Linked DNA regions of Homo sapiens. The main gene of each other region encodes a partner of the protein of the gene in region 2 in a complex. Each region holds a gene or a part of one and is shown on either strand. Other genes may lie near its edges. The genes, in order: STK25 and STRN.

Region 1 (3,815 bases), about 200 Mb from region 2:
CAGGCCACGGGGTCCAGCTGATGCCTCAGCAGGCCCTGTCCTGCAGCCTTGAGGGGGTCCCTGCCCAACACTATATCTGGTCACCCTCACCCCCAGGGCCCACGCCCCTGCTTCTGGAGTGGGGACCACCCACGTCACAGCACCTAGGGTCACCATGAGGATAAACCAGGTCCCTACATGTCAGAGTCCTCAGAGCTGGACTCCTCGCCATGCCCCTCTGACTTCCAGCGCTTATAGCGGTCGATGAGCTCCGTGAGGAAGGAGGTCTTCTTGGTGTAGCGTGTGATGAACTTGTGCTTCAGGAGCTCCTTGGCCGTGGGCCGCTGCAGGGGGTCAGGGGAACACTAGTCACTGGGCCCAGCCAAGCTCTGCCTAAGGGAAGCAAACGTGAGGCAGCCTGGACCGGGGCGGGCCCTCACAGCTACAAGGCTGGTGGGCCTGGGCCTCCGGGCTGTGCCGCCCACCCCAAGCGAACGCCCTCCCTCCACGTCCTGTCTAGAAGGGACCGGGCCAGAGGCGGGCCTTACGAATCGGGGGTCTTTGTTGAGGCAGGCCTCCACGAACTCCTTGAAGGGCTTGCTGTGCTGGCCCTCCAGTGTGGGTGGGCTGTTCTTGGGAATCAGGAACAGGACGCGCATGGGGTGGAGGTCAGAGTTTGGAGGCTCCCCCTTGGCCAGCTCGATGGCTGTGATCCCCAGGGACCAGATGTCAGCCTGGACAGAACACAAGGACTGTTGCTGCCCTGAGCACCCGAGCCAGGCATGGTGCCCGCACCTGCCCGCCCGCTGCACCCACCTTGAAGTCGTAGGCCGACTGCTTGATGACCTCAGGTGCCATCCAGAAGGGGGTGCCCACGAATGTGTTCCTCTTAATCTGCGTGTCTGTGAGCTGCCCTGCTACCCCAAAGTCCGCCAGCTTCACGTCACCCTGCTCCGAGAGTAGCACGTTGGCAGCTGCTTGACACAGGACAGGCAGGCGTCATCCCAGGCTCCACGTGGCTCCACCCCGGGCCCCCTGAGAAGGGCCAGGGTACCATCCACCTGGCCTCCTAGGGCACAGCAGGGCTGTCCTCAGGACCTCAGCCCTCCTTGCCACTCTCAAACCCAGGGCCACCTAGGGCCACAGGGGCACTGCCAGCAGGAGCCCAACGGCTCCACTCCGAGCTCCAGGGCTCTTCCTGCATTTGGCTTTTACGACAAATCCCAACGACAAGCGACTTCGCCCACTGGGGGCTACCGCAGAGGTGACCCTGACCAAGGGTGTAGCCAACACGGGCCTGCCAGGAAGCCCCCTGCTCCACCAGAATCGTCCCCTACATGACAGAGATGGCTCGTTGCCAGTGGCAAGTCCCTCCCCATGGGCTGGCCCAGCCTCCCGTCTGCTCTCAGCAGGGCCAGACCACACGCTGGGGCTACTCAATTCTACACCTGCTGCTGTGCCGTGCACCACAGGGAACCAACAACTCCAGCCAAGTGTGGCCCTTTCCTACACTCAGTCCACAGCTGGTTTCCTCAGCGTACAAGGAAACCGTTACAAGTAGTATCTTCTGGAAAGGGAGCGAGACAGGACTGCTCAGTTTCAGGGTGGCCACAAGGTTCTCTATACTCCAGACCCTGGGCACCACTAGCCACTTGCCCCTCACAGGCCCCGGCCTCTCTAAGGTCAGTGGGGCTCAGGACGTTACAAGAGCCACATCCACCCCCAGCAGGACCTTTGATGTCTCGGTGGATCTTGCGTTCGGAGTGCAGATAATCCAGGCCCTTCAGAATCTCCCGCAGGATCGTGGCAATGTATGTCTCCTCCAGGGGACCTGGTTTAAGCTGGAGAGGAAGGTGCGACAGCAGGGCCTCAGCTCCTGTCCCAGGCCCAATGCCTGAGTTCTCTGCCTCTCTCACAGGGAAGGGCTGTCCCTGCAGATAGCTGGGGGCTTCGTGTTCCTTTACTTCCCAAACAGAACTAAGTTTCAGATGGGAGTGGGGTGGTGGAGGCTCTTTCTAAAGCATATAAACCAGCCTCACCTTACTGTCATGTAACAGAAAAATAGGCTCCCAGCCATCTCCCAGCAGGCCTGCCCCCGCCCACTCCCACAGGCCAGGACCCCTTTCAGCACCAACTGGGCAGACGTGCAGATGGCAGTTCATTTTTGCTTTAGACGATTCCTAATTAACACCTAACGTGCCATGACACCAAACGAGAGGTGGCCCCTGGAGCCCATGAGTCTGAGGGGCAGGGGACTCGGACACTGCATGACCCCCCACTGCCATGGCCTATGCCTCACCAAGTCCAGTGCTGAGCCGCCGCCCAGGTACTCCATGATGATCCATAGCTTGGTGCTCTGGGACCGGAGACAAACCCATCAGCATTTGGCAGCAAGAGGAAGGGCATGCTCCAGGGTGGGAGTCACAGGCCGGAGTCAGCCAGGGCCCAGGCCCCACCGGTCCCATCCCTGCCAAGAACCCTGAACAGGAAAGGGCTCTCTCGGCCTTGCCCATCTTCCCCTCCTGCCACACTACTGCTACAGATGCTCAGAGGACAGGTTGAGTACACACAGCAGTGGCTGACTCCACTTCACCAAGACCCCATCAAAAACCAGGCTGCTGATCCAGTCCTACAGGGCTGGGAAGAGGGCATGGCTGGCAAGCATGTGACCCGACACACCCATCACCCTCCTGGGCAGGATGGCCACAGCGTTCCCTACACCCCAGACACTGGCACCACCAGCCACCTGCTCCTCACAGGCCCACTCACCACTGCCAGTAGGGGCCCCCCAGAGTGCTCCTAGCAGCGCCCTCACTGCATTACCACAGGCAGGCAAGTGGGTCCCAATGGCCATTTAGAGCCAACTGACCCTCGTGGACGAGGGCTCACACCCTGCCTGCCCAGGGCAGTTTCCCGGAGGGCATGCACTGAACCGTCAAGACCGCCTTGCACCCTCTGGCATGTCACTCAGTCCCTCTGACATGGAAGAGAGCCGGGCACAGCACCAGCAGGGTCCCCGCCTCCCCACAACAGGCACCTTTAGGTAGGAGCCAAAGTAGCGGGTGATGTAGGGGCTGTCGCACTGACTGAGGACAGTGATCTCCTGCTGGATGTCCTCGATCTCATCCTCGGCCTCCTCCAGGTCGATGATCTTGATGGCCACCACCTCCTTTGTGTGGTTATCGATGCCCTTGTAGACCTCCCCAAACGAGCCCTTGCCAATGCGGTCGAGCTTGGTGAAGAGCTCCTCAGGGTCCACTCGAGAGTGCTGTGGGGCCAGGGCGGGGACAGAGGGCAGACAGCGCCGGTCACAAGAGGCGGGGGACAGGCAGAGGCTGCCCTGCTGGGGAGGAAGGGACCTGTAGGGAAGGGGGAGTCCAAGGGAGCGCACCTCAATTCTTCTCTGGTTTCTTCCTTTCTCCCTTTTTGTTCAAAAACTAAACTTGGCCGGGCGTGGTGGCTCACGCCTGTAATTCTAGCACTTTGGGAGGCCGAGGCAGGTGGATCACTTGAGGTCAGGAGTTCGAGACCAGCCTGGCCAGCATGGTGAAACCCCATCTCTAATACAAAAAAATTATCTGGGCGTGGCGGCTCATGCCTGTAATCCCAGCTACTCAGGAGGCTGAGGCAGGAGAATTGCTTGAACCCGGGAGGCGGAGGTTGCAGTGAGCCAAGACCGCACCATTGCACTCCAACCTGGGCAACAAGAATCAAACTCCATTAAAAAAACAAACAAACAAACAAATAACAACAACAAAAAAACCTAAACTGAACTTTCCATGCAAGGGAAAAAGTCCCCAGAAAGTATAAAGAGGCCAGGCCAACTCGATGAACCC
Region 2 (3,815 bases):
ATGTAGAAACGAGGTCTCACTATGTTGCCCATGCCAGTCTCAAACTCCTGGGCTCAAGCGATACTCCTGCCTCAGCCTTCCAACGTGCTGAAATTACAGGCGTGAGCCACCCTGCCAAGCCCTAATATAAAGTTTTAAATGAGAAAAGGTATTATAAACATGGTCAACAAAAATAATATAGTTTTGGAGAAAAACACTGGCAAATAGTAAGAAAAAGGGTTTACATGTAGTATAAAAAGAGCACCTGCAAATTTTAAAAAACACAGTGGAACATGGGCAAAACTTTAATAAAATAACAAAATAAACATTTTAAAATGCAAATATGCAATTCACTCAAGTGAAATTCAAAAGGCAAAGTTTTATTTGGAAAAAGTACTTTTGAATGTGGTCAACAGACAACTTACAAGAGTTGGAAAAAAATGTTTGCATCCAAGATAAGAAAATCTGAACATATATTGTACAACATACAAAATGCTTTCACAAACTAGTTAACTAAAAAGACAAACGGTACAAACATATGGACCAAAAATAAGAAAAATTTAAAAATGTATATAAAAGTATAACTACGAATATTTGTGGTAGGCAGAATTCTAAGATGGCCCCCATGAACTCTGCCCCTCATGTTACTTCCATGGTTGATGTTACATTGCAGGGCAGAGGGACTTGGCAGATGTAATTAAAGCTACTAATCAGTTGACCTTAACAATCTGGGTGTGCTTAAACTAGTCACAAGAGCCCTTTAAAAGCAGTTTTCTCTGGCTGGTAGAAGTAGAGTCAAAGTATAAAAATAATTTGATGCACCCTGGCAAGCTTTGAAGGTGGAAGGGACCACGTGCAAGGACCACGGAGCAACCTCTAAAGGATCAGATTTGACAGTCAGCTAGGAGACAGGGACCTCCATCCTCTGACTTTAATGAGGCTGGAAGCGAATTCCTCCTCAGAGCTTTAGTTGAGTACCCACCCTGGAAGACACTTTCATTTCAGCCTTGTTGGGCCTTGAACAGACAGCCCAGTTGAGTTTCCCTGGAGTTCTAACCTACAGAACTTTGAATAGATAATTCAGTTCTGAGTGCAATCCAGATGACCAAAACATTTGAAAAGATGTCTACATTTATAGTAGTCAGGAAAATGGAAATTAAAATAACACTGAAAAATCACTACATCCACCAGGATTTTTTTCTTTTTTCTACGTATTTTTTAATGTTACAATAGTTATTGCCATGAGTATTAAGGGAAAAGTGTTTTTATACATTTACTGATGGAAATAAAAACTGTTCCGGCCACTTTGGGAAACAATCTGTCAATATTTATTTAAAAATTTAAATATACATACTCCTCAATGCAGCAATCCTACTCCAGGGAATCTATTCCGCAGACGTAAAACCATCATGGTGACAAACATATACACAGGAATGTTTATTGTAATAATAAAAAGGAAATAAGAGCTATGATAGACTTAGAGAAATTCTCATCCTACATTGTTAAATGAGAAATGTGAGATGCAGAGAACGTACATGATCCCATTTATTTAAAGCAAACTGCCCACCAAAATATCTTCTCATTAACGTTAGACTGTATATGTTTACTGATAAATTTGAGAGACCTTTAAAAATTTGTAAGGTGCTCATGATACACATTATATTAGAAAAAGCAAGTGCAGCATAATATGTAGAATAAAACCCCATATGTAATAACTGGGTATACACATTTGTATGAATAATTAGAAAGATACATATCAGGGAGGTAGGAATGAAGGGGTATGATGGGACATGCTTCGTTTTGCCATTATGAATCTTTATGCATTGTTTTTTGCATTTAAATTCATTTCTGTCACTTTCTTAACCTGAAAAACATCAAATCATCCCCCTTCCCTGCTCTATTTTTTTTCCCTCTGCACTTATCACTAATATTCCCTATATTTTCACTTGTTCCCCCACCTGGAATGTGCTGCATCAGGTGAAGTTTTTGTTTACTGCTGACTGCCAGCAACTAGAACTGTGTGGCATATAGCTGGCACTCAAATATTAAGGAAAGTAGTCTTCTGCTACTCTTGATGTTCATTTTAACCTATTTCTCCTAAAACCCTGATGTTCTAGAAGCTATCAGGAGTGTGACCGAACTACATGACCAGAAGTCTGTATTCAGAGAGTGAACAAGTCATTTGCTGGATGCTTATTTTATTAGGTGTTTTACATCCGTTATCTCAAATCAACCTAATTAGGCAGATCTATTATCCCCATTTCATAGATGAGAAGCCAATTTAGAAGAGTTGACTTGTCTAAAATCTAACAGACAATAAATGTCCTATTGTCCAGGCCAAATTCCTGCTTTCTTCTGTGTTGAACTGATCTTAAAGGAATCATATTTTTAGTAATTTTAATGACAGTTCTTACATGGTATATGTTTAATGTTGAGATTATTCGTTGAATATTTCATATGTAATTTGCTGATTCTTTTAATGATTTAAAGTCATTTGAATATTAAATATAAATAGTTGGTCTCTAACTTGTTGACTGTTTTATTCCTAAAACAATTGCACTGTTCAGCTAAAGCCCTGGGCCCTGCTGGAGTGCTGTCAGAAAACCAAAGACAGAGATGTTCCTAGGAGAGTTAATAAACATTGGTACAATTACTATAAAATCTTCAAGACAAAAACCAGCCTGAGAGCATCCTGAGGAACTTTGTCCCAGAATTTTCCTCTCCAAAGAAAGCTCCCCAGAGGGATGCCTTTCCTGACAAGATTCCACTGGGAGGTTCGTCTTTCTCCTGGACAACAGCAGTCAGTAGGGCCATCTGTAGGTTGCAAGGAAAGAGTGTGGAAGTGGACCTGTTCTGAGCCCAGGATAATCAAGGCAGGCTCAGGTTCCAGGCTAGAAAAGCTCCCTTTCAACTGATCAGAGGCCAGTGGGGAACAGGGGATGAGCAGAGGAGATATGGGGGTCCGGGGATAGATGGGAGGTCATCAACAGGGTTTAGGGACACCTTCCTGTCCCCACCATGCTCTGCTCAGTTTTCACGCAGGCAGGACTGGAACTGTGCAGTATAAAGACGTTGCTACTCAGGCATTTTGTTGCTACCTGTGAGGTAAAGTCCAAATTCCTCTCCAGTCAAGGTGCAGACCTCAATCTCAGGATAAGCTCCACAGAACCAAATGCATTTGAGCATCAACTGTCAAGAGATTTTTTTTTTTTTTTTTTGGTCTTTGATGATTTGTATAATTTAGATTTTGAAATGGGCTCTCTGATTACTCAGCCAACAAATATTTATAGGGTACCTTTTATATGGCAAGGCACCAGGCACAGTGCTAAGAGGAACATAAGAAAAACGAACATGGTCTGTGCCTTAGGGAGCTTATATAGACAAAAGCAAACAAATAATCATTAACCTTTATTTTTGTAGGTGACAAATGAGCAATGCATAATATGCAAAATCTGGGTTAAGGGAGAGAATCAAGATATTCAGAAAAAAAATCTCATTACCTGCTCCTCATGCCTCAAAAAAAATCCAGAAGATTTTGAAATGCAGGAGATAAACATCACATATTCCTTATTAATCTTTGTATTCCAAAAATAATTTCTGAAAATCACAGGAAAGAAAACTTTTGTGTATTTATTAGCAGAGGCAAGCTATACTATCAATTGGACACCTCAAGGGCACAAAATTGCCTGGAACTACAACCTTCAAGTTCAAAATTTCTACCTCCAGAAAGCAATGATGTTTCTAAAGATTCTCTTATTTTTTAATTGTGATTAGTAGATGTGTATTCCTACGTATTCTACAGCAATGAGAAATAAGGAGCACATTCTTTTTTTTTT

The links.
Region 1: STRN (region 2) and STK25 share a complex: the UniProt entries of both Homo sapiens proteins name them as parts of the core of STRIPAK complex.

Annotation. Positions count from the first base shown.
Region 1 is NC_000002.12:241,498,462-241,502,276, forward strand, and holds part of STK25 (serine/threonine-protein kinase 25), read right to left. Parts: intron 3,248-3,815; coding exon 3,017-3,247; intron 2,336-3,016; coding exon 2,279-2,335; intron 1,821-2,278; coding exon 1,712-1,820; intron 954-1,711; coding exon 796-953; intron 714-795; coding exon 528-713; intron 324-527; coding exon 178-323; intron 1-177. UniProt on the Homo sapiens protein: Oxidant stress-activated serine/threonine kinase that may play a role in the response to environmental stress.
Region 2 is NC_000002.12:36,837,360-36,841,174, forward strand, and holds the end of STRN (striatin), read right to left. Parts: 3' UTR 339-3,815; downstream 1-338. UniProt on the Homo sapiens protein: Calmodulin-binding scaffolding protein which is the center of the striatin-interacting phosphatase and kinase (STRIPAK) complexes.